4 separate regions of the Homo sapiens genome follow, and regions 2, 3 and 4 are each reported to be linked to region 1. The links are microRNA targets in miRTarBase. Many come from high-throughput screens and were not tested one by one. Region 1 holds a microRNA gene; each other region holds the end of a gene's coding sequence.

Region 1 (8,063 bases):
TAATAGGGGCTGTATTTATTAATCTAAATATTTTCTGTCAAATAAAATGTAAGGGAACAACATAGTTGTTGAATGAAGAAGGAAAAAAAGCTCTCAACACAGGGGTATGCTTGCATGCTTCTGATAATTAGAATAATCTGATAATTGACTTCTTTCTCCCTTCACAGGAGGGTGCCAATTAAAATAAACTACAATTGTGCTTTTTGGTCTTTAGCATCAGAGCAGATGATGTTTGAGTTTATGGCCAGTTTTCTCAATGTGTTGTCCAATTAACCTCAATGGGAATGATTCACATCAAATCCCTGGGGTTCTCGATGAAAGGGAAAGTCAGCCAGGCTGCTACAGGGAAAACAACTTTTATATGTGCTCTAAAGCTCACTGGTGGGCCGTTCTAGTGAAAAACTTGTGCCAGTGGAAACGTTTTACTATTGAGGTAAAAGCCCCCCAGGGTTTCTTTGTATATCACTGAGGTAGAAGAGACTAACTATAAGTGACACAAAGGGAAACTGGGCATATCAGTCTTAGTAGAATCTGACTCATTCCATCAAAGAGCTGAGAAAATGTGTACAATTCCACACGAACTAAAAGAAGTCATGAAGGATCAAATCAGGGAAATGTATAAGACTTCCTGAGAACGGATGTCTGAGATGAATTGTTCTATCAGATACTGGAGTAAATCATTTATTAAACTTAAATATCTGCTTAATTTCCTAATATATTTTAAATATTCAGAGTTAACTGCAATTATGTTTCAGTCATCAGGATTAGCTAATAAGTAATCAATAATATTAACCCCCCAAAGCTAACTACACTAGCTTTGCAGCAAAATAAAAAGAAAATAATCACGTACAATTTTTATAATAGTTTAATATTTATGAGGAATTAATCCATTGACATCAAGGTGGGATGAGAAAATGTTCGGGTTCATACTAAGTTTGTTCACAGTAAGTTCTAGATTATTGAAACCCTTAAGATAATGGTGAACATCAGCCAATTACTGAATGTTCATTCACTCAACAAATAATATTGAGAATGATTGTGAGCCATGTAGTATACTTGACATACTAATTATTGTGAGCCATGTACTAAACTGGGGACAAAATGTTGACTGCCTTCAAGGAGTATTTACAAAATAGAGAAGAAAATGACAGATACATGGGCAATTAATACAAACAGAGATAAATATTTTGATGAGACAAATAACAGGGTCTTGTCAGAACACAGGAGGGACCAAGAAGAAAATAAAGAATTTGAATAACACAACTATATATATGTTTTAATAAATACATGGATAACTCTGAATCCAAAGAAGCATAAACTACTCTTTACAATGAGACCTATAGAATTGGAAGGCATTGATGACATTAGGCCACAAAGAAAATATCCATCAATCTGTGAATGATATCATACACGTATATTGGCTTAATATGAAGAATAAATGAAATTTTTAAACTTGGCCAAACAACCCATATTTATTCCCATACACACTTGTATGTATGTTTAAAGTTTGGTAATTTCTATGCATATCTGTGTACACTCATCTATATATGAAAAATAAGAGCCCTATGTATCAAATCCAAGAGAAAAATATCAAAGATATTCTCAAAAGACAATTTCAAACCTAATATGTATTTTTTAAAGCTAAAGATACCAAGAGAGGAGTATAGAACATTAAATTCTTGCTTTCAACTTTAAAAAGTTATGAAAATATTGAAAATATTTATTTTTATAAACCAGATATTGATGACCAAAGTAAAGAACGAGAAAGGTTAATTTATAACATAAACACTGCTTCTAACCAACTTTAAAGTCTTAAAAAACAAATATTTGCTTTTCTTAATCTAGACACAAATATGGGAAATAAGAATGCTTAGAAGCTGACATTTAACTTTATGCAAAACAGAATTAGCAAAGGAAAACAAACAAAAACTATAAAATAATCTCATATATGATGAAAATTTCATTTATGATGTTCAATGTGAACATGAATACAAATACTCACATTTTAAAATATATCAAATAAGTGCAGTAATTTTAAAATAATTATACTTTTTGACCAACTAGAGCTAATTTCTTAGGTTTAAAAAAGTAATTATTTTTTAAGAGATGGGTTCTCACTATGTTGCCCAGACTAGACTCAAACTCCTGGGTCTAGCAATCCTCTTGCCTCAGCCTCCCAAGCAGCTGGGACAACAGCTCTGTGCCACCACACCTAGCTATGTATTTTTTAAAAAGGTTATTTAAAACAAAATGTTACTGTAATTCAACTCTATCAACCACACCTGGAATAAAAAAATTTTCTTTCCTAAGGCACTTCCCTAATGCACTTCTACAAAAATTCGTAATGTCTCAGATCCAGTTAAAATATTTTCAACAATTGTTACTATTGATCAGCTCCTTTTGTATAGTGACGAATAAAAATTGTATTTATTTATGGTGTTCCAGATGATATTTTGCTATATCTGTCAAATCATTGTGAAATGGCTAAATCAAGCTACTTTATACATACATTACCTCACATACTTTTTTTTTTGGTAGTGAGAAATTTAAAGTGTACTCAGTAATTTGCAAGCTTATAGTAGATTGTTGTTAACTATAGTTATCATACTATACAATAGAATGCTTGAACTTATCTCTTCCAGCTGAGATTTTGTATCCTTTGACTAACATCTTGCTAGACCAATCCCCTAGCTTCTGGAAACCACCATTTTGCTTCTGTGGGTTCAACTTTTTTGGATTCCATATATAAGTGATATTATGTGGTATTTGTCTTTGTGTTCCTGACATTTCTCTCAACGTAGGTTTTCCACGTTTATTTATGTTGTCATCAGGAACAAGATTTCCTTCTTTTTTATGGCTGAAGGGTTTTCCATTGTGTGTATACAGTACATTTTCTTTTTTCATTGACCCAACATTTACCATGCTGAGAGAAGAAAGCAACTCCTCTGTTTAATGAATGGAATCCTCTAAAAACTTCAATACACATATATGAACTTTCAGAAGCATTCTCATTAAATTGGGAAAAACAGAAGGATGCCCTCTTTCACAGTGTCTACCCAGCATCATCTTCAGGATCTAGCCAATACAATAAATCGAAAGGAAAATTTATATATAGTTAATAAATAACCTAAACATATATTTTACAGAAAATATAATTTTTATTCCAAGAGTCAATGTACTCAGTTGCGGTAAAGCAAAGTTACAAGAATTCTATAAGGATCCAGGATCAAAACACAACAATTTTCACATACGTGTCAACTGTTAGGTTGGTGCAAAAGTAATTGTGGTTTTTGAAAGTAACTTGGCGAAAACGACAATGACTTTTGCACCAATCTAATACAATCAACAGTTGTGGGAAGAATTTTAACTTTTCACTCTATGTTTGTACTGTTTTAGTGTCTATGTGCATGTATGTTGTAGTTTATATGTAGGTATTACTCACGTAAAAAATTAGTTTGGTGCTTGCTTCAGCAGCATATATACTAAAATTGGAATAATATAGAGATTAGCATGGCCCCTGTGCAAGGATGACATGCAAATTCATGAAGCGTTCCATATTTTTCCCATGAGATAATTGTCTTCAGTGTCCTGGAGGCCCTCGAGGTGGGCCGGTTGGTAGAATGAGAGGCCCTCCCAGTGGAGGCATGGTGCAGAAACCAGGATTTGGAGCGGGAAGGGGGATTGCTCCACAGCAGTCAATATTCATGGATCTTCAGGCAGCCATACAAATCCTAGTTCCTACAGAATGGTGAATTTCTTCAACCAGCCATCGTGGAGTATGGCCCCAGTCTGTTAACTGCTTAACTTTGTGTGTTTTAAAAAACAGTCAACCTGGCTGCTGTGTGGAGAACAAATATAAGGAGAAAAAATGAAGGCAAAGGGATTTTAGATGGCTGGTTTAGAAGCCTATGAATTGGACTAAAGTGAAGGAAGACATGAAGATAGAGACAAGTGGGTGTATTTTACTTTAAAATTAGAATTGACATATTTTACTTATATGAGTGGTAAGCATGAATGAGTTATTAAGGATAACTCACATATCAAAAGGGAAACAATGGCATGGATGTTAAGGTTATCAGGTAGGCACAACCCTGAATACAGAGTTGTGATGCACTGAGGAGAAAACTAGGAATATCCTAAATATTTGGGAGTAGTTGACACACAGAGAGAAGGCAGAGCACAATCGGAGGGTTGAGAAATAGACATGGGGAAAACCAACTCTTCTTTTGTGATATGGACTAATGAGGGAAGCATGGCTACAGATGTGTCATGTTCAACAATGTACCCATTCTATGTGGGTACCCATAGAAGCCATACACATTAGAAACAAAGATGTTAACTGGTTAGAAGTACAGGTTTTGGAGGCAGACATGTCTGCTACCAGTATCAACATTGCTGCTTAATATCTGGGTTAGTGACTTGGGGCAACTTATTTAATCTCTCTAAGCGTTTGTTTCTTCATCTTTATTGAGAAGAATAATGCCGGTAGTATTTCCCTCATTATAAGCTTGTGAAGATCGCTAAATATATCACATGAACACGACAAATTATGGTCACTGATGCATAGGTAATACTCAGTGAAGGTTTTCTATGACTATTAGAGTTCTGTATGTTATTATTATGCAAGAAATCCACAAATGGTTATTAGTGTCCATTAAACCGTACATTATGAAACATAAATAAAACTATATCATATGTTTAACATTGTGCTTGGCCCCATTGAGAAAGTATAATAATAAATAAATTAATACTAATTTAATAGTAGTAAATTACATTTGAATGAATTGGAAAAGTAGAATAGTGCTGAGTAATTCAGGCTTAAAAACTTCCTATTCCATGATAACTCATTAAGTTAAAGACAACATATAAAATATTTACACACCTATTCCCAGGTGAGAGGCTGGTAATTTTATTAAAAATTTTAAGATTTTCTGGATAATGCATGAATGATGAGGAAACTTTTTTTTCTATTTGGATATAAATTTGGTTTCTTTTTATAATAAAATTTCAATATGTCCTATTGTCTTTTTTGTCTTAGCTAAATGGATTACTTCTATTTATAATTCCTCCAGAAATCAGTGAACTTTATCTTGAGAAATGAAAGATCAAATAGATGATATAGAGAAACAACTCTTTTACCTTCAAATAGGAAATGTAAACTGATAGGAGTCATTGTATTCCAGTCTTCTGGTCTGGAATAACAGTAACTAAATTCATTTGGTTTGTTACACATAAAAAAAGGAACAACTAGTACTGCTTTAGGTACTATAATATGTTTATCCACTTCATAATAGTTTGACATACACATCCTCTTGGTCCACGTTCAGATATTTGACTAACCCCTTTTTAATTTGATATTTCCTAGGGAATGAAATTTTTATTCATTTACAAATTCATTCAACTGACCCATTTGTATTCTGAACAACTGATTTTGTAATCTGAGTTCTATGTTTTCAATATCCGAATGTCATTAGTTTTGGCACAGTTTTACAGTGTTCATGCTCCTATATTCTTAGTAAGTGGATCTAACAGTTTAACAGTAACCAATATTCTGTTCTGCACGTTCATTCTCTTGCCATGTTATACTCTTGCTTTTGCAAGACTGTCTTATATTCTTGTGATTCCTAGTCTGTCATGAGCATTTTGCAGTTGAGGAAGTTATTTCCCCAAGGAGTTTCAAATGAGGATCTCTGTCTTTTAACTTCAAACATTACAAAAAGCCCTACGTCAAAATTTCGGTTCATTTCATGTAGGAATTGGACTGTATTATTTAGTGCTCTTGTCTTTTAAAGTTTAAATTATTATCAAAGTAATTTTAACCATTTGATCTCTTTTGTGATTTTTTTTCATTTTAGGTAAAATTATTTATTAATATCATTATTTCTTAAGTCATGAGTTATAATGTTCAAACTGCTTTAGATTTAAATGGAAAGAGGTAAGTTCATTTTCTGTATGTTTTTCTGACTTAAAGCAAACATTTTACTTAGAATAAAATAGAGCACCACTTTATCATAAGCATAGTTAATCTGACCCCCTCTGAATAAAAGAAAGCCTCATCGAAATTATGTTTATTAGGTATCATATTTTTAAAGAGTAAAACTGCCTTGGAGACAGGATCTCTGGGCTTGAACTTCACCTCTTTTTGTAATACCCTAAATTTTTCATAGTAATTATTTTTCTCAAAGCTTCAAACCAAATTACTTAAGAAAAAATATATTACTAAGATAATAATAATATTATGAATATTGTCCAGGAAAGCAAAATGTATACAGTATAGTCCTATTTTTTCTGCTGTTATTTAGTCATATGTCCCTGCCAAAAATCAATCTCTGGGAAGGAAGTTTTCTCATCTCTAAAGGTTTTGAATAGATGACTTCTAAAATTACCTTCAGATCCAAAAGCCTCTGATTATTTATTCAAGAAAATTGCTTGCTAGGTACAGGAAAATCACCTATTTTTTGAAAAAGATTTAGGAATGAGAATTATAGTGTTTCTTATAATCAACATTCTACTTTACATACAGTATTATCAATTGTTATTTCTAAATTATTTAAAATTTTTACATCGTTCCTAATATATCTATTCCAATTGAATATTTTTTGGATCACTTGTATGATTCTATGTTGTTTTACCCACTGTCTGTTAGTGTAAATTCTAGATAAAAGCAGGGTGTGTTATAATATGTATGAGGCATTTAATTTCCCAGTGTGGCTTTCTTAATGAGATTTTTTAATATTAGGAAATTAAGTGAGCTACACAAAATGGAATAATTTTTAGAGCACAGATTATTTATATTAAATATCACAGTACAAAATATATCATTACTTGTCATTATTACAGTGAGCACAAAATGCTTGCAATATACCAATGATCAGTTGGATGCAAACTTGAATTTTACCGAAGAATCTCACAGGAATGGAACTTCACCTCACTAAGCTACTCTTTTTCCTTAAGTCAGCTGTTCAAATAGTGAAATTATTATTACCCAATATGTCACTATGAATACTATTTTACAATATAGCTCCAACATCAATTGCTTCCTTCTTAAACCAACTCTTATTTCGCATTTCTTTAGGGCAATGTAATTTCTATGTGGGTTGCTAGTTATTTATATACAGACTGAGAATAAACAATCCCTTACCTTTGCTACTTGCAGAGGGTTGGGCGCGAACCAGTCTAGTGGGATGTTTCCAGGGGAGGCTTAAAGTAAACAAAATGGTTACTGGAACTCGCTGACATAAAGTTACCTCAAGAACCAAAGAGTAGCTACACACCAAAGAATAGAAAGCATTGAGGGTAAAATGAGAGAAGCAGGATTTCAAATGGCCACAGGAGGGTAAATGGTTTGAAACCAGAGAAAAACTAAAAGATAACAAGTTTGAAAGAGCCTGAAAAAAAGTAGGGAGTGAGAGAGAACAAGAACCAGTCCGGAAACAGAGTAAATGTGTCTTCTTCAGGGCATACCTCATATCAAATTGAATTAAATACTCTTATTAATATTGCTCAGAAAGTTCTAGTTTTAAGGCACAGATTGAGAATGAAAATTAGAGCTCCTTAAGCAACATGACATATTTGCCTACCAATCTTTACATTTGAATACCTGAGCTTGGCATATAACGTAATGAAGGACAATAAGTAAACAGAGAAAAATGGAAGGATGAACGGGGATAAAAGACACAGAAAGCAATACTTTAAAGGGCAAAGAGAGAACTAAGAAGAAACAGGGAATGCAGCTAAGACTGAAGAGTCTCTAATCTTGTAGATACAAGCAAAACATCAAAGTAAATCTTTTGTGCAATATATTTTCACAGTTTAATTACAATCCCATTAACTGTTCTGTTCCTTAACTTCTACTGTAGTTTACAGGTAGCCTAATGAAAATTGAATAATTTAATCCTCTCTTACCACATAACTTGATCCCATGCTTTTTTGTCCAGCCACTAGCTGATAATAAACATGGGAAATAGATATAGAAGTTTATTTCATTATTTTTTCTCAGTTGAATTGTGTCAAGTCTCTAGCAGTATGAAGTTGTAGCTGTGTAATTCTTTGACTGCCTTAGA
Region 2 (8,063 bases), not on the chromosome of region 1:
TTTGGGAGGCCGAGGTGGGCAGAACACTTGAGGTCAGGAGTTCGAAACCAGCCTGGCCAACATGGTAAAATCCGTCTCTACTAAAAATACAAAAATTAGCCAGGCATGGTGGCATGCGCCTGTAGTCCCAGCTACCTGGGAGGCTGAGGTAGGACAATCGCTTGAACCTCGGAGGTGGAGATTGCGGTGAGCCGAGATCACACCACTGCACTCCAGCCTGGGTGACAGAGCAAGACTCCATCTCAAAAACAAAACAAAACAAAACAAAACAAAACAAAACAAAACAAAAAAAGACTCTTGACTGAAGTTTTCAGAAAGCAAATCCAGTCCTTTCTTCCAAGACCAAGCTCTTTAAATAATGTGTGTAAAATACTTGGCAGAATGCCGGACACAGCAGACTTGAAAGTGTCAGCTCCTTTTCTCCTTCCCCTCTATTCTTTTCACTATTCACAATAGTTTAAATATTCCTCTAGATCTTAACAGAATTGATATTTTCACTTTTAACAATGAAATAAGCTTTTTATCATTAAGATGTGTCAAAAGGTAAGCTGTAGTTACAGAGAAGTAACTAAGCTAATTGGAAATAAACTTAGAAAGATAAACTATATAATCCTTGTTAGTGACAAATTTTAAAGAAATTAGTCTTGCCAGGATTAAATTAAGGAATTGGTTTTATACTTTGTAACATTCCTACAAAAGACACATCGAGTGCCCCAAAGTTTGACCCTAATCGTGTTGCAGAAAGCAGGGACATTTAATTTCTAGTAGAAAAAGCCCCAGCAAACTTCTTTAATTAGATTTTGAACTAAAGAGAAGAGGCTCATGGGTCCTCCCTATTCTCACAGTAATTTCCTCACACTTTAATGTTTTCATGGGCTCTGACTGTTTAATCTACTAACAATAACTATTCCAATGTTATTCTAGGGAGCTCTGTTGTTGAGCGAGAAGACGTACCAGCCCATTTGGTGAAAGACATTCGTAACTATTTTCAAGTGAGCCCGGAGTACTTCTCCATGCTTCTAGTCGGAAAAGACGGAAATGTCAAATCCTGGTATCCTTCCCCAATGTGGTCCATGGTGATTGTGTACGATTTAATTGATTCGATGCAACTTCGGAGACAGGAAATGGCGATTCAGCAGTCACTGGGGATGCGCTGCCCAGAAGATGAGTATGCAGGCTATGGTTACCATAGTTACCACCAAGGATACCAGGATGGTTACCAGGATGACTACCGTCATCATGAGAGTTATCACCATGGATACCCTTACTGAGCAGAAATATGTAACCTTAGACTCAGCCAGTTTCCTCTGCAGCTGCTAAAACTACATGTGGCCAGCTCCATTCTTCCACACTGCGTACTACATTTCCTGCCTTTTTCTTTCAGTGTTTTTCTAAGACTAAATAAATAGCAAACTTTCACCTATTCATGAGTTATTATTGAAACCTCAAATCATAAAGACATTTAAAAGAATTGTTTTTCTAACTGGAGGGGCTCTAGTGCTAAATAATAGTACTGAAAATTGATATTATTTTCCTTTTCTTATATGAAGGACCTTATTTGGCATATAAAATTTTATAAAATATGTATTTAAAGCTTTTTCTTATTTTTTGTATTAATTGGTAAGTGAAAACTCTGTTAAAGATCACACCACAATGTTTTCAAGAAACATCTGAAAAGATAAAACAAAGAACAAATAACTTATAATACTTACTTAAATTGACACTTTTTGAAATGCCAGTCTGAAAATAATTAAGATATCTCTGCTTTGTATGAGTTTCTTTTATGAAACTTGATACCACGGGAGTCCAGTAATATTGGCCACAAAAGCCAGAGAAAGTACCAAGCCCAGCTTTGTTATCATAGCCACTTCCTGCCCTGCTTCTGTTATTTTTAGTGTTTTTTCAGATATAAATCGGGGTCCAGGAAATCCTCACCAGAATCTGGCACTGCAGCCAAAGGCGATACTTCCAGAGTTCTAGTAGGCTGCTATGGAATTTCTGGCATGAAAATTCTTGACCCCTCACACTTTACCCCCTGTACAGCACAGGCATACCATGGAGATATTACAGGATCAGTTCCAGACCACCATAATAAAGTGGATATCGCAATAAAGTGAGTCACACAAAATTTTTGGTTTCTCAGTGCATATAAAAGTTATGTTTACACTCTTTAGTAGTCTATTAAGTGTATAATAGCTTTATGTCCAAAAAATGTACATGTTTTATTTTAAAAATACTTTATTGCTAAAAATTGCTAATGATCATAATCTTTTTGCATTGATGTTGATGGCTGCTGAATGATCAGGGTGGTGGTTACTGAAGGTTGGGGGTGATGGTGGCAATTTCTTAAAATAAGACAGCAATGAAGTTTGCCACTTCGATTGACTTTTTCTTCATGAAAGATTTCTCTGCAGCATGTGATGCTGTATGATAGCATTTTACCAGTAGTACAACTTCTTTTGAAATTGGAGCCAATCCTCTCAAACCCTGTTGCTGCTTTATTAATGAAATTTATGTAATGTTGTAAATCCTTTGTTGTCATTTCAATAATGTACATAGCAACTTACGCGAGTAGATTCCATCTCAAGAAATCACTTTCTTCGTTCATTCATAAGAAGCAAGTCTTCATCTATTAAACTTTTGTAATGAGATTGCAGCAATTCAGTCACATCTTCAGGCTCCACTTCTAATTCCAGTTCTCTTGCTATTTCCACTATGTCTATAGCAGAGCTTCCTCCAATGAAGTCTTGGGCCTCTTAAAATCATCCATGAGGGATGGAATCAGTTTCCGAACTCATTGATCTTCCTATTTTGACCTTCTCCCATGAATCACGATGTTCTTAACAGCATCTAGAATGGTGAATCCTTTCCAGGTTTTTAATTTGCTTTGCCCAGATCCATTAGCGGGATCACAATCTGTGACAGTTATAGTCTTACGAAAAGTGCAAATGACTCCTTGATTCCTGTGCTGCACAATAGGTATTGTGTTAGCAGGCACGAAAATATTAATCTCCTTGTATATCTCTATCCAAGTTCTTGGGTGACTGGGTATATTGTCAGTGAACAGCTATATATATATATATTATAGTGGTCTGGAACTGATCATTTATATATATATTTTATATACATATATAAAATATATAATATATATTATATATATATATATTTTTTTCGAGATGGAGTCTCGCTCTGTCACCCAGGCTGGAGTGCAGTGGTGCGATCTTGGCTCACTGCAACCTCTGCCTCCGGGGTTCAAGTGATTCTCCTGCCTCAGACCCCTGAGTAGCTGGATTTACAGGCGCCCACCACTACACCCAGCTTATTTTTGTATTTTTAGTAGAGATGGGGTTTCACCATGTTAGTCAGGGTGGTCTCGAACTACTGACTTTGGCCTCGGCCTCCCAAAGTGCTGGGATTACAGGCATGAGCCACTGCGCCCGGCCCGAACAGCAATATTTTTAAAAGATTCTTTTTTTTTCTGAGCAGTAAGACTCAAAAAGTGAGCTTAAAATGTCCAGTAAACCATGCTGTCCATAGACATGCTGTCATTCAGGCTTTGTTGCTCCATTTATAGAGCACAGGCAGATTAGATTTAGCATAATTCTGAAAAGTCGTAGGATTTGGGGAAATGGTAAATGAGCATTGATTTCAACTTAAAATCACCAGCTGCGTTAACTTCTAACAAGGAGTAAGCCTGTTGGTTGAAGCTTTGAAGTGAGGCATTGACTACTCCTCTCTAGATACGTAAGTCTGAGATGGCATCTTCTTCCAATATAAGGCTGTTTCATCTCTTTTGAAAATCTATTGTTTAGTGTAGCCACTTTCATTAATTATCTTAACTAGATCTTCTGGATAACTTACTGCAGCTTCTACATCAACATTTGCTGCTTTACTTTGCACTTTTATGGATGCACAAGGCTTCTTTTCTTCAAACTCATGAACCAGACTCTGCTACCTTCAAACTTTTTTTCTGAAGCTTCCTCACCTCCCTTTAGCTTTCATAGAATTGAAGAGAGTTAGGGCCTTGCTCTGAACTAGGCTTTGGCTTAAGGGAATTTTGTGGCTGGCTTGATCTTCTATTCAGATGACTCAAAGTTTCTCCATATCAGCAGTAAGGCTGTTTTACTTTTTTATCATTCATGCATTCACAAAGTAGCACTTTTAATTTCCTTCAAGAACTTTTCCTTTGCATTTACAACTTGGTTGTTTGGCATAAGAGGCTTAGCTTTCAGCCTGTCTCAGCTTTTGACACACCTTCCTCACTAAGCTTATTCATTTCTAGCTTTTGATTTAAAGTGAAAGATTGCAACTTCCTCTCACTTGAAATACCTGGAGGCTATTTTAGGGTTATTAATTGATCTACTTTCAATATTGTGTCTCAGGGACTAAGGAGGCCTGAGAAGAAGGAGAAAGATTGGAGAAAGGTTGGTTGTTGGAGCAATCAGAACATACACACATTTATTAAGTTTACTGTGTTATATAAGTGTGGTTCATGGTGCCCCCAGTAATTATAATAGCAACATCAAAGATCGTTGACTACAGATTTTAATAACAGAGATAATAATGAAACAGTGTGAAATATGGCAAGAATTACCAAAATGTGACACAGAGACATAAAGTGAGTACATACTATTGCAAAAATGATGTCAACAGACTTCCTTGATGCAGGGTTGCCACAAACCTTCAATTTGTAAAAAATGCAGTATCTGAGAAGTATAATAAAATAAGATGTGCCTGTACTTACTTGCTAATGGACCTATTACCATACTGGCATCTTATAAAAAAAATTACAAGGAAGGAGATTATATCCAGGGATTCTTTTTGTTTTCAAGGCAAAGGTTACCAAGTTACAATGGACCAAAGTAGCTGGAATGCAAAGGAGTATAATCCTTGTCTTTGAAAAAAGAGCATTTGTTTCAATCATATGGCATATCAAAGTAAACTTTCTCCCTTCCTCCCTCCTTTCGTTGCTGCTGCTTCTTTTTTTTCTCTTTTTTTTTTTCTTTTTTTGGAGAGGGTCTCACTCTGTCACCCAGGCTGCAGTGCAGTAGTGCAATCTTGGCTCACTGCAAACTCAGCTTCCCTCAAACAATCCTCCCACCTCAGCATCCCAAGTTAGCTGGGACCACAGCCATGCTCCACCATGCCCAGCCATCCTTGCTTCTTTACTACATTTCTTTTTTCAACAAATATTTATCAAGTAATATTGTCAAGTAATATTTATGAGCTTCCCCTCAGATAGGCATTTAGCATCATGATGGCACCATCCTCTAACAATAATGGGAAGGCTATTTTCCACTGTTATTAATCATTAATTCTCCAAATCATTTTAGTATTATTATTAATTCTAATAAGTACAGAGATTAATAAATGCATTCAAACCACATGTGAATATTTGCTATAGGTTTATCTGTGCCTACTGTATGTTCAGATTTTTCTTTATATCTGAACTTTGTTATAAATAAATGACAGTAAAAATGGAATTTATAGTTCAATGAACTTGACAAATCACTTATTCTGCCATTCATTTTCCATAAAGACCATTCATTCTTCCTTGTTTTACAGGTAACTGAGCTCCAGAAAGCTCAAGTGACTTTAGAACTCAGTTCTTAGTGTGTGAATTATGCTCCCATCTCATCCCTCTTCCTTGATGGAGCACTTTCCTCCTCATTTTTTCTTGGATAGTCTGTACAAGCTGCCTGAGGTGTGCAGGAAAGTGAGCCACGTCGAAGTGTACTGCTTTTAAATTTTTGCCAGGATGAAGCATAGCCCAAAGTTGCCAATAAAAATGGATTTCTTTACCTTTCTGAAATTGTGTGATGACAATTTCTAAGTAAAGGACCCAAATCATGTCAACTTCAGGAAATATAATAATGAGGGAGCCAGGAGCAGTGAGGGGCTCACACCTGTAATCCCAGCACTTTGGGAGGCCAAGGTGAGCGGGTCGCTTGAGCCCAGGACTTCGAGACCAGCCTGGGCAACACGGCAAAACCCTGTCTCTACAAAAAAATACAAAAAATTAGCTGGGTAAGGTGGTGTGTGTCTGTGGTCCCAGCTATTCAGGAGGCTGAAGTGAGAGAATCGCTTGAGCCTAGGAGGTCGAGGCTTCAGTGTGCCGTGATCGTGCCACAGCACTCCATCATCATCATCCTGGGTGACAAAGTGAGACCCTGTCTCCCCACCAAAAAAAAGAGGGAGTTTCATCTCCCAAGAAAATGAATTAGATAGGAATAATAGAAAATTTACTCTCAGAATAATAGGGTTCTAGCTCCTGCAACCAAAAAAAGATAGTTCTTTTTTACAACCTGAGATTACTTTTTCAAGCATTTCTCCAGTTCCACTGGCATTGAAATAATAGTTAGCAATGCATCTGAGCTTTTCTTCCTCTAATGAGCAGGCAGAGAAGTCATAGATCATCATTTGGAGGACTATAAAATAAGACATAGCTTAGCAAAAGGACCAAAATACATTCAGAGGAGGATGCTATTGGTGAATGTCCTCAAAGCCTATAATCTGGAAAAATACAAGGCATATCTCTGAAACTGTGAGGATTAGCAAACTAGCTAACCTGAATCTCTGTCTTCTGGTAGTATAAACTAGGTAGTTTCAAATCTGAGTAGTTTCTCCATAAAAGCATTTCTTCCCAAACGTTTCTTACCAAACTCCCAAATAAATGAGAAAAATAAAATACAGTTTTATAATTTTTGAGAAAGATTATGGGATTATGGTATTTAAAAAGAAAAGCATTCTGTAGAGTTGGGGAAATCTGGAAGACTCTTGAGGACATAGCTTTGCCGAAATTGCTGGTTGTCACAAGACTCTTCAAAAACTACTTTTCATCAGACATCTCCCAGGGCTCTGAGGTGAATATTAATTCAGCAGAAAGATCCTTTTCTGCTACATAGGCAGGAGGTCCAGACACAGGGGAGTGGGTGCAACCCAGCTGGTCCCATTTTCTGTAATATAATTAACAATGAAGCTCATACTTTCTCAACTTCTAGAAGCCTGGAGGATGGAAGCAGCCCGAGAGTAGGGTGAATGATGGCCTCAGTGGGCCCTTCTTAATGTGTCTCAGTACTGAATGTGTGGAGATTGTAGAAAAATAGAAGGCCCTTGGAAAAAACCTCTGTTCGTTTCTCTGTTCGTTTCGCTCCCTGATCTCCCTGCCGGATTGCTTTTCTTTCCTTTCTCTTCCTTGGCTGTCCTTTACCTCATGGTGTGGGGTGTGCAGATAGCAGGTTGTGGCTTGGTGAGTGCTCTTCACTTCAGGTCAAGGTGAGGCACAGTTAACATGCTAACTACTTTCCTCAGTTCTCTCTGAGTTGTGTAAAGCTCCCGATGCCAGACTTCCTCTTAATTTTGCACATTATTAAAGTCCAAAGAGTTAAGATTTGGTGATGAGGGGCAAAGGGCCAGCTGTCACAGAAATCAATGAAATGATACACAGAAATGGGTATCATGAAAAGGCCACTGGACTTGGGAAAACTGGGTGCCTGTCCTTGCCCTGCCATGTACTTACCTGTGTGACTGGAGGTGAGATGTTTTACCTATGGGCCTCAGTTTCTCATTACAAAATGACAGAGAAGACTAGATACCTAAGTTCCTAAGTTTGTGACATTTGTGAATTTTTCTTGGCCCTCTGTGAGTAGAGTGCTAAATTTAGAGGCTTCCTGTGGTTGAACTGATGTCCAATTCTCAGGGAACCCAGACTTCTCAGTTCAGAACCCAGTTCCAGATTTTTGTGGGAATAGGGAAAGGTATTAAATAACTCCATTGAATTCTTTCCTGCATAATGCCCTGCTGTGGCTGAGACTCAATGAGGTCATCACCTCCAACACACAGAACCCCTCATCATCTCCTTACAGCCAGACTGGAGCTTCCAAGGACATCAGGTTGGCAAGGATTGTGAGTACCCTAAACATCTAAAGAGGCCCTCTAATAAGGGACATATTTGTTCTTCAACAGTTTCCTAACTTGAGACCACAAATGCGTAATCTCTCTAATATCCTAAAGCTTGGACAAACTGGGCAGCCCCTGAGCAGACCGCACAGAGCTTAAATGTC
Region 3 (8,063 bases), not on the chromosome of region 1:
CTCGTGCTCCCAACTTCATCTGCACTAGTCTTCCTTCGGCTCCTTGGACATGCTAAGCTCATTTACCTTTTAGGTTCCCTCTGCCCGCAAGATGTTTACATGGCTGTTATATCATCTAGATCTTAGCTAGGACAGGATCTTCTCAGGGAGACCTTTATGACCACCCAATAGAAAGCAACCAGGGCCAGGCACGGTGGCTCACGCCTGTAATCCCAGCACTTTGGGAGGCCAAGGTGGGCGGATCACGAGGTCAGGAGATTGAGACCATCCTGACTAACATGGTGAAACCCCATCTGTACTAAAAATACAAAAAATTACACTGGTGTGGTGGCACATGCCTGTAGTCCCAGCTACTTGGGAGGCTGAGGCAGGAGAATCGCTTGAACCCGGGAGGTGGAGGTTGCAGTAGCTGAGATCACGCCACTGCACTCCAGCCTGGTGACAGAGTGAAACTCCGTCTCAAAAAAAAAAAAAAACAAAACCAGAACCCCACTTTCTATCATATCATTGGCGTTTTGATTTTTTTCTTGTATTCCTTATTTTTCTTCTTTATAATTGATTTTTGTTTAGCAACTCCTCCCTGATTATGCAAGTTGCATAAGTGCAGGGAGTGCAGACTTGGTAGTCTAAATCATCCAGTGTGTCTGCATGGGTTCTTTAACAGTGCCTGGCAGATATAGGTTAATACTTACTTGATGATGAATGTTAAATAACTTAGTGAACAATTTTGGAAGATGGGCAGAGCAGATGGTTTTTGTGTATTTTTACATGTAGAGGGCCGGGCATGATGGTTTACACCTGTAACCCCAATATTTGGGGAGGCTGAGATGAGAGGATCACATGAGCTCAGGAGTTAAAGAGACCTGCCTAGGCAATATAGTGAGATCCCGTTTCAACAAATAATTTAAAAATTATCCAGGTGTGCTGGCGTGTGCTTATGTCCCAGCTACTTGGGAGGCTGAGGCAGGAGGATCACCTGAGCCTGGGTGGTTGAGGCTCCAGTAGGCCATGATTGTGCCATCACACTTCAGCCTGGGCTGTAGTGAGACCTTGTTTCAAAACAAACAAACAAAAACTTCATAGGGGATGGGATCTCACATCTGTTGTTATGAATAAGTAGTACTTTTCATATGATTTATACATCAAAAAGTATAAAAGATACACAGGATAGTCTCTCTCCTGGTCTTGTCTCCTAATTACTTCACAGTCATGTACCCTGTTTCCAAATTCTTATGCTTCCAGAGAACTTTTATGCATGTAAATGCCAACACACAGACACACACACATGCCCCTGTACATTTTAACTTCAGTGCCATCCATCGGTCCTTGGCATATAATGACTACTCCAAAACCTTTGTTAGATGAAAGGTAGAGTTTTCATATTTTCTGTATTTTCTAAAATATGCTAAGAAACACATTTTGTTCTATGAAAAAAATAAACAATAGATAATGTTTTATTGTTAATATTTTCTTTCTTGCGTTTTATGTTTGTTTTTAGCTCCCTGTGCTGTCAGGAATCTACAGGACTTGGCTCGTATTTACATTCGACGCACACTTAGAAATTTCATAAATGATGAGATGCAGGCCAAGGGGATTCCTCAAAGGGCTCCACCCAAAAGGAAAAGAAAGAGAGTTAAACAGAGAATTAACACTTACGTATTTGTGGGTAATCAGCTTATTCCTCAGCCTCTAGACAGTGAAGAGGATGAAAAAATGGAAGAGGATAACAAAGAAGAGGAGGAAAAAGATCACAATGAAGCAATGAAGCCAGAGGAGCCACCTCAAAATTTACTGAGAGAAAAAATCATGAAGCTGCCCCTCCCTGAATCTTTAAAAGCTTACTTGACATATTTTAGAGACAAATAACTTAGATCAAGAAGAAAAATGCCTACTGATAATTCCTTTAGTCTTGAAAATGTAGCATTTGTTAGGAGTTAAAAGAGAGAATTATTTCTTTCATCAGAGCAAATTATAGTGGAAAAAAAATCACTTGTTTCTGTCAGTAACACAAATGATGTATTCAGTGAATAAAAGAATCCCTTTTATAAAATCTATTTTTCTTTAAATCTTGGAAAAATGTTGTTTTAGCTCAGAGTGATTTCAAAGTGGAATGCAACAGTAGTCAAGACTTGTGTACTATAAATCCTTTTCTGATTCCTTACAGATTTGTAGTGATGAGGTTTAGATTTAATTTTATATATGGTTTAAATAATTGTTAAGCTTATATAACCTGATCTGAATTGCAGTTGTTTGCATTTCCTCTATGAAAACTTCATTTATCTAATAAGGAAGTCAAATGCTTTGTAGACTATTTACCTTACTTTTGTTGCAATCACTGTTGTTGGGTTGCTGTATATATATTCCGGGCAATATATGAGTGCAATAACAATACAAGATATTGAATAATTTAGCTTTAAAAAATCCCACAAATTTTATGAAATTTTACAGCCCTGCTACTTTTGCTTTTGAATCTCTTGCCAAAAGACATGGGTAAAATATCTGCCTCTCTCATAGAGATTTTAAGAGCACAGCAAGTGAATTATTAAAACAAAGTCTATACTTAATACAACTCTTTATATGGACCCTTTACATTTTCAGTATTTAAAAAAATGAGGTTATCTTAACTCTATAGAATTTTAAAAGTATATTTAGAATTGTTTTTTCTGTAGTTCACTGTATAAAGTATTTGGTTTTTTAAAAAAAGCAAAACCATTGTTATGTGTGACTCTTGATAGGACACAGAACGAGTGAATGAGCATGAGTGAGGCCACTTTCTTGGATGGCTGTAAGTAGCAGGGCCAGGGTAGACCTGGTCAGCGGATGCACTTTAGCAGATGGAACTTCTAGTTTATCTGAATATTTATCTTTGACAAGGTAGGGCTGAGCCTACATTTGCTTTTGATCTATCTAGTATAAGAAATATTCACAGAAATTGTATGTAGATACCCTTTGTTTTGAAAATGCTGTTCAGAATCATAGTGTAATCTTTGGGACCTATGCCATGTTCATTTCACTCCTTCCCATATTTTTTGTGTTTCTTTTGGTAAAACTATAATGGTTTTCATTTTTTACTTAATATCACACAGTTAAACTGTCCATATTTGAGCTTTATTTTAGCTTATCAGTGATAAAAAACAGGTAGTAACTGCCATTGTTTGTTTGTTTTCCTAATAAGGCCTGAAAACAGCCATTCCTTGTTAAGAAAGTGTACAATGTAACATATTTGCTAGAGTTACATGGATTATATATTTCTTAAAGGGAAAAATTTGAGAGTATCATGGACTACCACCAGCATTATTATTACAGTAGTTACTCAGATTTGGTTAAGGAAGCCCAAGCAATGTATAGTGAAAGGATTATTATCTCTCTGCTAAGATTCAGATATTGTTTCAGAAATCTCAGCTCCAGTAATTCCACAACATCTAAAAACAAATGTTTGTGATCATGTGTAAGCATGAAATTGTTCCAAGTAAGTGAGGATATTTTAGTTATGTGAAAGACAGTTTCATGGAAGGTATTTGTTTTATACCAGTGGCTGGGATGGTGGAATTGGGGTTATTTCTACAATTATTCTTAGACGATTACTAAACTGTTAAGAAATGCCCCATATCATTTTTGTATCTAGGAAAGAAAAAAATCAGTTTCATACTGTTGTCATCTGTCAGAAATGCTCATTTTATTTTGAATTAAATGTGGCTTTTGAAGTACCTAGTTACCTTGAATTCCTGGTGACCACATGTTTTTATCTGGAAAACCTGGAGAAAGTTATCTGTCCCATCTCCCCTGCTTGTTTTTTTTTTTTTTTTTGGTTGGAGCTGCTGTTTAGATGATGCTTTTACTATGCAGGAGAGAGTTTTTGTTAAGGATATATTTGAAGATTGGCTTTTCCATATTGTCCTTCATTCTTTGACCATGGCAAAGTGTACAGTAGATTTTCATGATCATTGCATATTTCTTGTCATTGAAATGTATCTTTTATGTTTTTAAATGCATTCATTTTACACTTGTGAGTTTATCATTGACTTTAAGAGGTAGAAATGAAAAATGAAAATTAAAGCTAAAGCCTTTTTATCTATTAATGCAGATATATTAGAATAAGAATATTTTGGGTTTGTGTTTATTTTTTAATGAATTTATGTTTACTTGATATGGAAAATTACGCTTTATAGGTGGAAAAGTAGCAAATAAAGATTAAGTAAAAGTAAGTGAAAATGATGGGGAATATAGTATTGGAATTTTATAGCTAGTTAAAACAGTAAGTATCATCTAATTTGGGTGTTTATTTTGCAGATGAGAAAACAGACCTAGAACCGTGGCATGTTTTGCCTGAAACATACAGTGAGTTAGAGACAGGGCCTAAGATAGCTTCTAGCATCAGATCAATCCCAAGAATCCATCAGCAACCTCAGACCAACCCAAGAAGATAATTTAAATCTATACTGCTTATTGGTCAATATATTTGGTTCTAGTATTAATAAAGAAAAATGTTATTAAAATAGCATACATAGTAGTAAAATAAAATACAAAAAGTGTGTTGATTTATAGCTGTTTGAGATGATAAAAGTGAAGCAAAGCCTGTTAAATCATTGGAAGACTTGGAAAATTATTTTAAATAAACAATTACATGTAATTAAGCATTTTTCTCCCATGGCCTGACTTTTATGTTTGTCTTCTTCTTTTTAAATTTAGGCAATCTCAGTACACCTATGGATATGCTCAATTATGGCATACAATTGTCTTTATTTGGACATCTCACTGTCTTTTGACTATTGCCACTTCTGAAGAGTATGGAAGTTTTTTAAAATTTATTTTTATAAAATAGGTAGGGAAATTTATAAAATATTCATGAAATATAAGAAATAATTTAGTGTACATGTAGGTACATGTGTGTGTACCCATTAGGTTCAACTAATAGCTTTACAGTCTCCTGTGTGCCCCTTCCCATCCACATCTTAATCCCTCCCTTCTCAGGAGGAGGGATTTTGTGTTTATCATAATCTGCCTTTTTGTTCTCAATCACCTGCCTGCATCTCTAAACAATGTATTTGGCTTCATATATGCTAGGATCCTACTGTACGCATTCAGCAGCTCTCTTTTTCACATTACCTTTCTGAGATTGCCCCATGTCGTATGTTGTTCTGTTACATTCACACTTCACAGTTTATTCTACTGTTGGTGGACATTTTTTGTTCCCTCGAATAGTTCAGTTGTGAACATTCTTTTATATGTCTTGTGACTACATGTGTGAGAGTCTGCTTAGGGTGTACATCTAGGAGTAGAATTACTGGGTCATAGGAAATCATTTCTATTCACTTTTACCTAGATGGTGCAAATTTGCTTCCCAAAATAGTTTAACAGTATGTTTCTTCTAGCAATGTCTAAATGTCCCAGTTATTCCACATCTTCACCTACACATGACAGACTTTTGCCTGTTTAGTAGTGTGACGTATCTTCTTAGGGGACTTTGTTACTTATAAAGGTTATTTATTAAGGGGGTTTTATCTTCAAGCGTTTCTTGGTTTTAGGATTCCTTTCTGCAAAGTGCTGTTCAAGTCTTCTGTACATTTTTTTATTGGGTAGTTTCTTTTAAAAAACTGTTTTGTGGGATTTCCTTTTGCAGTCTAGATATATTCCACTGTCAATTATATGTGTTGTAAGTATCTTTTCTCAGTTTATGGTTTCTTACTCTGTTTATGATGTTTTTTGATGAATTGACATTTTCAATTTTAATTGTCAGATTCATCTTCCTTCACCCTCAGTCTCAAGGTCATGGAAATATTAACCTATATTTTCTTACAGAAGGTCTGTGATTTTGCCTTTCACATTTAAATCTGCACAATAGCTGGAATTGATGTTTGTGTATGGTGAGAACTAATAGTCCAGTTTCTTTTTTTTACTTTATTGATCAACTGTTTGAGGACCATGTTTTGAAGTTTCTTTTTTCTTCTCTGATCTGCAGTGTTAACTTTATCGTAAGTTTTCATATATTTTTGCTATGTGTCTAGGCTTTCTTTTTTGTTTTATTAGTCAGTTTATATAACCCGTTGCCGACACTACACAATTTTATTTACTGGAGATTTACAATAATTCTTGATCTAGGAAGATAAATCCCTTCACTTTATATGCTAGGAGTTTCTTGAACCTGTAGACTGTAGACTTTAAATTTCAGAATTGGCTTCTCAGATTACATACATGCACACACACACACTCTTCTTTGGGAGTTCCTTGAGAATCACTTTGAATTTATAGATCAGTTTATGCAAGAATTAACATGTTTATGATAGGCAGTCCTCCAGTCCATGAATATGGTACTTCTCTTTTTTTTAGTTAGGACTTATTAAGTATGGTTTGGCTCTAAGATCTAATATCTTTTGTCAGATTTAGTTGCAGATATTTTATATTTTTCAATGATGTTGTAGTTTATTAAAATTGTATTTTATTCCTTTTATTGGTTTTTGTACATTGATTAAATCCAGTACTATCTCTTTTGATTCTTTTAGGTTTTCTGTATAGGAAATCATATATTTGAATAAATTTTAGACAGTTTTATTTTTTTTCTTCTGGGTTTTTTTATTTTACCAGATTTGCCAGCTGTGGCCTCCAGTGTAACTGAATAGTGATGAGCAAGAACAGCCTTATTTCTTTATTTTAATTTTTTAATTTTTCCATAGGTTATTGGGGAACAGGTGGTATTTGGTTACATGAGTAAGTTCTTCAGTGGTGCTTTGTGAGATTTTGGTGCACCCATCACCAGAGCAGTATACACTGCACCCTATTTGTAGTCTTATCCCTCACCCCCCTCCCGTTCTTCCCCCTACATCCCCAAAGTCCATTGTATTCTTATGCCTTTACAACCTCATAGCTTAGTTCCCACATATCAGTGAGAACATAGATGTTATCATGGTATTTGATTTTTCCATTTTTGAGTTACTTCCCTTAGAAGAATAATCTCCAATCTCATCCAGGTCGCTGCAAATGCTATTCATTCATTCCTTTTTATGGCTGAGTAGTATTCCATCATATATATATATATCTCACAGTTTCTTTACCGACTCGTTGATTGATGGGCATTTAGGTTGGTTCCATGATTTCGCAATTATGAATTGTGCTGCTATAAACATGCATGTGCAAGTATCTTTTTTGTATAACGACTACTTTTCCTCTGGGTAAATACCCAGTAGTGGGATTGCTGGATCAAATGGTAGTTCTACTTTTAGTTCTTTAAGGAATCTCCACACTCTTTTCCGTAGTGGTTGTACTAGTTTACGTTCCCACTAGCAGTGTAGAAGCGTTCCCTGATCACCGCATCCATGGCAATGTCTGCTGCTTTTTTATTATGGCCATTCTTGCAGGAGTAAGGTGGTATTGCATTGTGGTTATGATTTACATTTCCCTCATCATTAGTGGTGTTGAGCTTTTTTGTCACGTTTTCATGTTTGTTGGCCATTTGTACAACTTTTTTTTTTTGAGACAGAGTCTCGCTCTGTCGCCCAGGCTGGAGTGCAGTGGCGTGATCTCGGCTCACTGCAAACTCCACCTCCTGGGTTCACGCCATTCTCCTGCCTCAGCCTCCCAAGTAGCTGGGACTACAGGTGCCTGCCACCGCTCCTGGCTAATTTTTTTGTATTTGTACATCTTTTGAGAATTGTCTATTCATGTCCTTAGCCCACTTTTTGATGGGATTGTTTTTTTCTTACTGATTTAAGTTTGTTGGAGATTCTGGATATTAGTCATTTGTTAGACATACAGATTGTGAAGATTTTCTCCCACTCTGTGGGTTGTCTGTTTACTCTGCTGACTGTTCCTTTTGCCATGCAAAAGCTCTTTAGTTTAATTAAGTCCCAGCTATTTATCTTTGTTTTTATTGCATTTGCTTTGGGTTCTTGGTCATGAAATCCTTGCCTATGCCAATATCTAGAAGGGTTTTTCCGATGTTAACTTCTAGAATTTTTATAGTTTCAGGTCTTATATTTAAGTCCTTAATCCATCTTGAGTTGATTTTTGTATAAGATGAGAGATGAGGATCCAGTTTCATTCTCCTGTGTGTGGCTAGCTGATTATCC
Region 4 (8,063 bases), not on the chromosome of region 1:
CTGCCACGTCTCACAGCATCTCGGAGCTGTCGCCAGACTCAGAGTAAGTATGGTCCAGCCACCTGCTTGCACCCTCATCAGCTTAGGGCAACCTCCTGTGTGCCCTGCCCTGTGTTCTGCCACAGAAGGGGATGAGGGCTGGCAGACAGGTGTGGGCTACCCCAGGCTCAGCACAGCCAGAGGGCCACAGGCTGGGGACAGGAATCTGGCAAGAAATGGGGGTGTGACTAGCAGGGACTTGCTGGCTGTGTGACTGGAGCCAGCCAGCCTTCCCAGCACCTCCCAGGCTAAGGAGAAATAGGTGCCATCCGATGGGCTGAGCTAGCGAATGGGAGGGCAGGAGCTGAGGCCTAGAAGTGGGAGATGACCTGGAATATGCAAGGGGCAGGGAGGAGAGCAGGAGGCCTTGCTTGGGAAGGTTCGCCTAGGGGGTCATATAGGACAAGGAGAGGCTGGAAGTGGTGCCAGGATATACCAGGCTGAAGGGCTTGCTTTGTTGAGGATAAATCATTCATTCATCGATGTATTCAGTCAACATTGAGTTCCTCCTGTCTGTGGACACTTTGGGGTGGGGCTCACAGGAACTGAGTTGGAACCTGGTTCATCTCGGGTATGTGTGAAGCATCTGTGGGGAAGGGGATGGCGGACAGACCCAGGAAATAGCTGGATACACAGGAGTCCGAGAGGGACTGGTGGGAGTGGGGAGGAACCAGGAGCTTCCAGGTCTCTTGTAAGCCAAGAGGAGAGTTGAGTTTCAAGGAGGAGAAACAGCTGGGTCAGGCTCTGGGGGTTTGTGGGGTAAGAGATGGCTTGGGGAGGAAGGGGGCCCTAGGGGTGGGGCAGGGGATCGACAGAACTGAGCAGGACCCAGGGCAGAGAGAGGACAAAGGAAGGAGGAAAGAGCAGGGGTTTGGGGATCCTGGGGCTTGGGCACTGAGGGCTGCTGGGGGTGGGGACCAGAGGGAGCTAACCCACGGCCTGGGTCCCCCTGCAGTCTAGCTTTGGGGTCTGGCTGTTTGGGAGGTAGACTAGGGACTGAGCAGGGGTCCAGGCTCTGGAGTCGCACAGGTTTGAGTTTGAGCTCTGTGTCTTACCTTACTAGCTGCGTGACCTTAGGCAGAGGCAAGCTTTTCTGGGCCTCAGTTTCCTCATCTGTAAAGAAGTCTGTAGTAACAAACTCTTTGAGATGTGGAAATCTATGAGATAATATCTGTCAAGTGCTCAATATAGCATCTGTAAACAGTAGGTGCTCTTGAAGCACTTAGAGAAAACACCTGGGCAGCCAAGGAGCCTGGCTGAGTCTAGGGGCGCGGAATGGAGGACTCTGAGAACCCTGGAGTGGGCATGAAGGGGCTGGGGGCTAAGAGGCGAGAGCAGTGGTGGAGGCAAGGGAAGCAGCCAGGCCAAATGTGGTGGGGGAGTCCAGAGCCGCCTGACTCGGAGTCCTCTGGGCATCAACCTCTGATTTCCTCATGTGCCTCCAGAGTTCCCAGAAGTGAGGGTCACTCCTGAGGGGATGACGGCGTGGACGAGGAACAGCTGAGGGCGACAGAGGATCTAGGCTAACAGGAGAGACTCCAGGAGTGGGGGCAGATCCCAAGGCAGCCTCCTGCTCCCCAGTGGTGGGTGCCCCAGCTCTACCTGGTGTGGCAGGGCTGAGGCTCCATGTGCATCTGTGAGCATGCGTGTGACAGGTGCAGAGACGGGGGACTGGAGGGAGACTTTTATACGTTTTGTACCTTTGTAACCAGAGAGATGCTTATGTTATTTTTCAGCTTTTCTGTCTCCTGGGGGGTTTGAGGCTGGGCTGGGAGGGGGAGGGAGATAGAGGGAGAGATGCAGTTTGACCCCATTTGGGTCCTGAGCAAACCCTATGCTCATCTCTCTCTCCTTCCTGGGGTGGACTCAGATGGGTGGGACACATGCCTTCCTCCCCCTATTCCACCCCCAAGTTGATCTGAGTATCGTCAGGGGCCCAAAGTACAGAATTGTTCTTTGCTTTTTATTGAATGCTCCAAAGGCCAAACTTCTGGGGCTGGGGGTTGGTCTTGGAAACAGGGGTCCTCTGACTTCCTCATGGGGGCTTGCTCATACCGCCCCTCCTGGTGGATGTGTGTGTTTATTATGTGGAGTCCCTGCCACTTACTGCCTTATGACCTAGGACTGATGCTGTGGGGTGCTGGTGGAGCAGCTGATGTCGTGTTTACAGAGCAAGGCTTCCCTGTCTCCCACGGGGAGGGGCTCGGGCCTCTAGTCAGACATTCCTGCAGAGGGTCGGTGGAGGGGTCATTCACCTGCCCCTGCAGCAAGCAAAAGTTGTCTGTGGTGCCATTTGATTCCCTGACACTGCCCCCTGCTTGAATTGATTCCGAAGGGTAGGGTGGGAAGGTGAGCAAAGGGAGCAGAAACAAGGGAATTCAAGACCCAGAATGTAGGTGCCACTGCCTCCTATGTTTACAGGATCCTCCGTGGCCCTAGGCACCTGGGCTGCAGGAAGTGACTCCGTTCCACTCCTCCTTTATTCCCTTAAAAAGGGAAAAATGACTGTTACGACCCTGTTCACAAAACTCTTACTTTTGCTATTTTGTCTGCTGTCCAGAACTGAAGACTTTAAAATTTTGTTACTGTTTACAAGTCCAGATTCAAAAAATGTTTTTACTTTGTTTACAACTCAAAACTTTGAGTTTTACACTTTGTTTACAGTAGATAATTTTTTTTCCTTTGTTTCCAAGTGAAAGGTAGGGAAAGTGGGAGAGGGACTTGGAGGACCCACCTGTGAGGACCCTGACCTGGCCATCTTGAGGGGTTTTCTAACCCCCAGGTCTCCCAGGCCGAAGGTCAGCCTTGAGTCCCGTTTAACAGCAGATCCAGAAGACCTTGAGAGTAGGCGTCCTCTAACCACGGGGGAGAGTGGCTGTGCAGGGCTGGGGGGTGGTCTGTGCAGACACCTCCTCACCCACCACCCCATGCATACTCTTGGGAAGCAGCTTCCTGGGAGATTAGAAATTCTACTTCCCTGACTGGAGCTAAATCCCACCAGCCAGGACCCAAACTCTCCTTACCGAGAAGGACCCCAGCTCTTGAAGGGCTGAGTGGCCTGCTGGGGGTGGGAGGGTGTCTTTACTATGTCCTAGGTTTCGTAGATGCCCCTCTCTGGGGTTCCCCTCCTCCAGCCCAGCGGCCCTCTTTCCTGTCTGTGTAAATTGTTCCGTGAAGCCGCGCTCTGTTTTGGGAATAAACTTCTATAGAAAACAGTTGTTGCCTTTTCCTGTTGGGGGCTGGGGAGGTAGGATGGAAGCTGTGAATGATTCAAGCCAGACTGACCTTTGGGAGGAATCTGAGCCCCTCCCAAGAATATCCAGCTATTTTTAGCCCATTTCATGGCAGATCTCTTTCACCTTGAAATCTGGCCCCTCACTTTGTAATTGGGGCCTGATGTTGGAGCACAGGTGCTGAAAATAAGGTGCTAAGGAAAACCTCCCCGCTGGTCAAGGCAACGGCAACAGGACTTCCTAATTCTTCAGGGTCTGCAGCCCTGACCCGGCATTTTTTGCCCTCACCTGCGGTGAAACCAACCTGAGGAACTGCTCTTGCAGTTCCTGCCTTGCCCACCCAACAGCACTGACGCCCACCCAACAGCACTGACCCCCACCATTCTCCTCGGCGGCCCGCGCAGTAACCTTCTGGGAGCTACGTCCGGGCTGTGCTTAGTGCAGCGGAGGGGATCCTCCAACCATTTCTGGCCTGGGTGGCCAGAGTTAAAGGGGAGGACTTGGGGACCGTTGGCTCCGGGTCTCAAAGAGATGCGTAGTCGCAGAAAGCCTGCGGGTGGCGCTCTCAGCTGAAGGCAAGAGAGGCCCCACAGACCTGGATCCCCTACGAGTTAAGGCTGGGGTCACCGGCCAGTGGAGTTTCCTTTTCCCACTCCGTGAGCACCTTCCGCCGAGCCAGGACCTGGGATCAGCTCCAACCTACTCAGGGCCTGGGGGCGCGACTGCGGCCAGCCCGGCGCGGGTGCTTAGTTCCAGTTCTGCAGTCCCATCCAGCTCCGGGCAGAGGGCCGGGCGAGCAGCGAGAGGCCTCATAGGCCAGGTCGCCGGGGAGGAAGCGGTTAAATCCTCCTTCTCCAGTCTCTCCCCGCCCGGCGCGCGCCACTTAGGCCCCGCCCCAGCGCGCTGATTGGCCCAAGCCTCCCCGTCCTGCCCCGGGATTAGCCCCCGGGAGAGCGCAGCTGGCCTCACCCGGTCCCGGCGCCGCCTTCCGGAGCGTAGCGGCCTCTAGCTCGAGCAGCAGGAGCAGCCCGCACCGGACAACTTGCGAGCCATGGGGCTGGCGGATGCGTCGGGGTGAGTTCAGCGCACATTCCCGGTGGCCCCGCGCGAGCGCCTCGCTGGAGCAGGCATTCTCCGCTTGCGACGCCTCGCTGGAGCAGGCATTCTCCGCTTGCGACGCCTCGGTTTACCTCTGCTGATTTTCTGCAGGCGGCTGCCCCTCTGCAGCAAGGGGTGGGGGCGGGAGCCGGCGCGACCCCAGTCCCTTGGGCTGTGCGGAAAGCCGCTGGTGTGACGCCCGAGGGCCATCCCGGGCCACAGGGAGGCAGCTGCGTGCGGAGGAGCCCGGCCAGGAGATGTGCCGGCGGGGGTGCGTGGGGCACGGGAGTCCCTGGCAGCGGCCCGTGGACTAGCTGCTTTCAGCTGAGTCCCGAGTCCACCCAGCTCCACTGATCCCGGAGTGAGCGCTCCGGCCTTTCTGGCCCCAGTTGCCTTCCTACAGGGAGGGGCCAATGATCAAGGCTCCGCCCTCCAAACGCGGGTCCCAAGTTGTCGGGGGAGGGAGCCCTTTAAGAAGACCTGAGTGACTCACGTAGGAAAGGAGAGGGGGCTCTACGATCTCCTTGAGATAGCGGTCCCAAGAGTCTCTGAGGATCTTCCTTGCACCCACTCCACACTCCTCCAACAGTACAGCCAGGTTAGAGGCGCTTCCCAGGTGAGTTCCTGTCCCTCAAATGGGATCCTCTCCCCAGGTCAGGGCTTTTCCTAGATCAGAACTTTCCTGACTGGTGAAAGCTTCCCCAACAGGCTAGAGTTTTCCCCCAGGTAAGATCCTTCTGTGAGATCTATTCCCAGGTGACAGCTTTTCCCCATTCCACGTGGGAGCCTCGCCCGAGGTCAGAGCTTTCTCTATGGGAGAGTACCCCCCAGGTGAGAACCCTCTCCCTCTAGGTCTTTTCTTCCCATGTGAGATCTTTCTCTGACTTCAAGTAGGTGCCTCTGGGCAGAGGGAAGATTCCCCCTGTATCAGAACTTGCCAGGCTGATAAAGATTCCCTGGTAGGTCAGAGATCCCTCTAGGTGAGATTCCCCTTGAAAGCTTCTATTCCCAGGTGAGCTCTTTCCCCCACTTCAAGTGGGTACTTCCCTTTCCATGTGGGAGCCTCTCCCTCTAGGTGAGAGATTGCCACTCCAAGAGCAAGCTCCTTCTCAGGTGAGAGCCAGTCCTTGGCTTCCCCATAACAGGCCTGAGCCGTCTACAACCTGGACCCTGGGGCTGGAGGCCCAGGGGCAAGCTTGGCTCCAACACTTTCCTTCCCTTAGAGGGGAGGGTCTCATCTGAGGCCTGAGGCTTGGGAAAGGAGTTGCTTGAGGAGCTGGACCCCTGGTTTGCTGGACCCCTTCCCTGAGTGTGCTCTCAGCCAGCAGTGGGCTCCCGGGGCAGCTGGAGGAGGACCTGGGGACTGGAGAGGGACTGGGTGGGGGAGGGAGCAGCCTGGGACCTGGACTGGTAGAACACTCAGCACTGGGCTGCCACATCTCGGCTGGAGGTATAGCTAGTGCTCATCCTGCAGTCCCTACTTGGGGGACTTTGTCCTAGAAAGAGGCTTTCTCACCAGCCAAAGTTCAGGTACTGCCCCTGTCTGAGTTTGGACATGTGGCCCACAGATGCCAGCTGGGGGCTGGAATACTGTACCTTGATCTTAGGGCCTGGAAAAATCAGGTAGGTAACTCTCTGGTCCTAGGTGGAGGTGTAGGGGAGGTTGGGCCAGGGATGCCTTCACTGTGTCTCTCTGGTCTTGCCACCCCAGACCGAGGGACACACAGGCACTGCTGTCTGCAACACAAGCAATGGACCTGCGGAGGCGAGACTACCACATGGAACGGCCGCTGCTGAACCAGGAGCATTTGGAGGAGCTGGGGCGCTGGGGCTCAGCACCTAGGACCCACCAGTGGCGGACCTGGTTGCAGTAAGGCCAAGATTGGGGCCTGGGGGCGCTGGCGGGGCCCAGGTAGCCCCTGTTCCTGACACCTACCCCTCATATCATGTCCCTAGGTGCTCCCGTGCTCGGGCCTATGCCCTTCTGCTCCAACACCTCCCGGTTTTGGTCTGGTTACCCCGGTATCCTGTGCGTGACTGGCTCCTGGGTGACCTGTTATCCGGCCTGAGTGTGGCCATCATGCAGCTTCCGCAGGGTGAGCCACCTTCAGTGCGTCGGCCTGGAAACCCTGTGGTCTGTGATGCCCAAAACTGGGGCCATGACCTCTACCTTGGAACTATGGCACCTAACCCAGGGCTGGGATTCCCTTATCGTTTCAAGATCTGCTCTCCAGGCCTGCACTGCTACCATTCTACCCCTAGGCTTGGCCTACGCCCTCCTGGCTGGATTGCCCCCCGTGTTTGGCCTCTATAGCTCCTTCTACCCTGTCTTCATCTACTTCCTGTTTGGCACTTCCCGGCACATCTCCGTGGGTAAGTGGAGGCAGGCCTAGCCTTCCAGGAGGATGCCCACATCCATCATGGAGGGCAGGGTGAGGGGGCACTGAGCAGGGCAGGAGCGGCTGGGGAAGAGGGCAGCATTGGTGCTGCATCCCTGGGCTAGCCCACGAGTCATCCCCAGGCAGGACTAGACCCCTGACTGTAGGACCACAGAGGCAGGTGACCTCAAAGCCCTGGCTCCAGGAAGATGAGAGTGGGTGAGGCAGCCCAAGGGGCCTGGAACTTGGCAGAGGCCTGAGCAGCCTAAGGCCAGCCCTGACCCCTTCCCTACTCCACAGAGAGCCTCTGTGTCCCGGGACCAGTAGACACAGGTGGGACAGGGTAGATGAGACAGGGCCAGCATTTCTAGCCATGCTTAAGGGCCTGTGAGCTCAGGGTTTACTCCTGGCCTGGCCAAACCTGAACCGCCAGCACTGTCCCTGTTCATGCAGCCATAATCTGAGTACATTTATCCAGAACTGGAAGTCTCCTGGCCTCTCTCTTAAGACCAGGGCTCCAGGGCAGGGCAGTGTCCTCTCCTCTTCAGACCTGCCCCGTGCCGTCCTTACAGGGACCTTTGCTGTCATGTCTGTGATGGTGGGCAGTGTGACAGAATCCCTGGCCCCGCAGGCCTTGAACGACTCCATGATCAATGAGACAGCCAGAGATGCTGCCCGGGTACAGGTGGCCTCCACACTCAGTGTCCTGGTTGGCCTCTTCCAGGTGTGGAACAGTCAGGAGTATGTGCCCCCCACCACCACTTCTGCTCCCGCCACTGTCCTGTCTGTACTCCCCTGAGTGTCTGACCATCGTCGTCCTCCTCTTGCCGTCTACTCATCCCCCTCCCATCCCACTTGCCCTGCGCTCCTCATTAGCAACCCCAGGACCCCTGCCTCTCCTGACTGCCCCTGGCCGCCCCACAGGTGGGGCTGGGCCTGATCCACTTCGGCTTCGTGGTCACCTACCTGTCAGAACCTCTTGTCCGAGGCTATACCACAGCTGCAGCTGTGCAGGTCTTCGTCTCACAGCTCAAGTATGTGTTTGGCCTCCATCTGAGCAGCCACTCTGGGCCACTGTCCCTCATCTATGTGAGTGAGGGTAGGGGGAGGGAGGGGTAGGTGTGCCCCATGGCCTTGAGTGCTAGCTGTGACCTGGCCTCTCCTCAGACAGTGCTGGAGGTCTGCTGGAAGCTGCCCCAGAGCAAGGTTGGCACCGTGGTCACTGCAGCTGTGGCTGGGGTGGTGCTCGTGGTGGTGAAGCTGTTGAATGACAAGCTGCAGCAGCAGCTGCCCATGCCGATACCCGGGGAGCTGC

The links. Region 1 holds the annotated microRNA hsa-miR-548ae-5p (AAAAGUAAUUGUGGUUUUUG, at 3,274-3,293, shown strand). A microRNA usually pairs through its seed, bases 2 to 8, with sites in the 3' UTR of a target mRNA and lowers its output. Matches are read on the target gene's strand: a 7mer-m8 pairs with bases 2 to 8, a 7mer-A1 pairs with bases 2 to 7 and ends in A, and an 8mer does both.
Region 2: the mRNA of CCDC80 is a reported target of hsa-miR-548ae-5p. Seed matches in the 3' UTR shown: 7mer-A1 at 2,235-2,241, 7mer-m8 at 3,890-3,896, 7mer-m8 at 4,123-4,129 and 7mer-m8 at 6,312-6,318.
Region 3: miRTarBase lists PCMTD1 as a target of hsa-miR-548ae-5p. Seed matches in the 3' UTR shown: 7mer-m8 at 2,318-2,324.
Region 4: the mRNA of CELSR3 is a reported target of hsa-miR-548ae-5p. Seed matches in the 3' UTR shown: 7mer-m8 at 2,571-2,577 and 7mer-m8 at 2,656-2,662.

What each region holds. Positions count from the first base shown.
Region 1 is chr2:35,468,147-35,476,209 of GRCh38, forward strand. It overlaps MIR548AD (microRNA 548ad), which reads left to right and starts at 3,259; the gene lies at 3,259-3,340. It also overlaps the pseudogene RNU6-1117P.
Region 2 is chr3:112,598,625-112,606,687 of GRCh38, reverse strand. It overlaps CCDC80 (coiled-coil domain containing 80), which reads left to right. Exons shown (of 8, transcript NM_199511.3): 8 at 925-8,063. The coding sequence ends at 1,271. Among named protein-coding and RNA genes, the nearest start is that of CCDC80, 38 kb to the left of the region's middle. RefSeq lists an enhancer at 2,631-2,800.
Region 3 is chr8:51,814,154-51,822,216 of GRCh38, reverse strand. PCMTD1 (protein-L-isoaspartate (D-aspartate) O-methyltransferase domain containing 1) reads left to right here. Exons shown (of 6, transcript NM_052937.4): 6 at 1,499-4,634. The coding sequence ends at 1,866. Among named protein-coding and RNA genes, the nearest start is that of PXDNL, 8.7 kb to the right of the region's middle.
Region 4 is chr3:48,631,654-48,639,716 of GRCh38, reverse strand. It overlaps CELSR3 (cadherin EGF LAG seven-pass G-type receptor 3), which reads left to right. Exons shown (of 35, transcript NM_001407.3): 34 at 1-43; 35 at 1,485-3,254. The coding sequence ends at 1,512. SLC26A6 (solute carrier family 26 member 6) reads left to right here and starts at 4,256. Exons shown (of 21, transcript NM_022911.3): 1 at 4,256-4,346; 2 at 6,082-6,240; 3 at 6,327-6,466; 4 at 6,633-6,743; 5 at 7,321-7,472; 6 at 7,673-7,837; 7 at 7,916-8,063. The coding sequence starts at 4,324. MIR6824 (microRNA 6824) reads left to right here and starts at 6,019; the gene lies at 6,019-6,081. RefSeq lists silencers at 4,048-4,327, 4,718-4,817.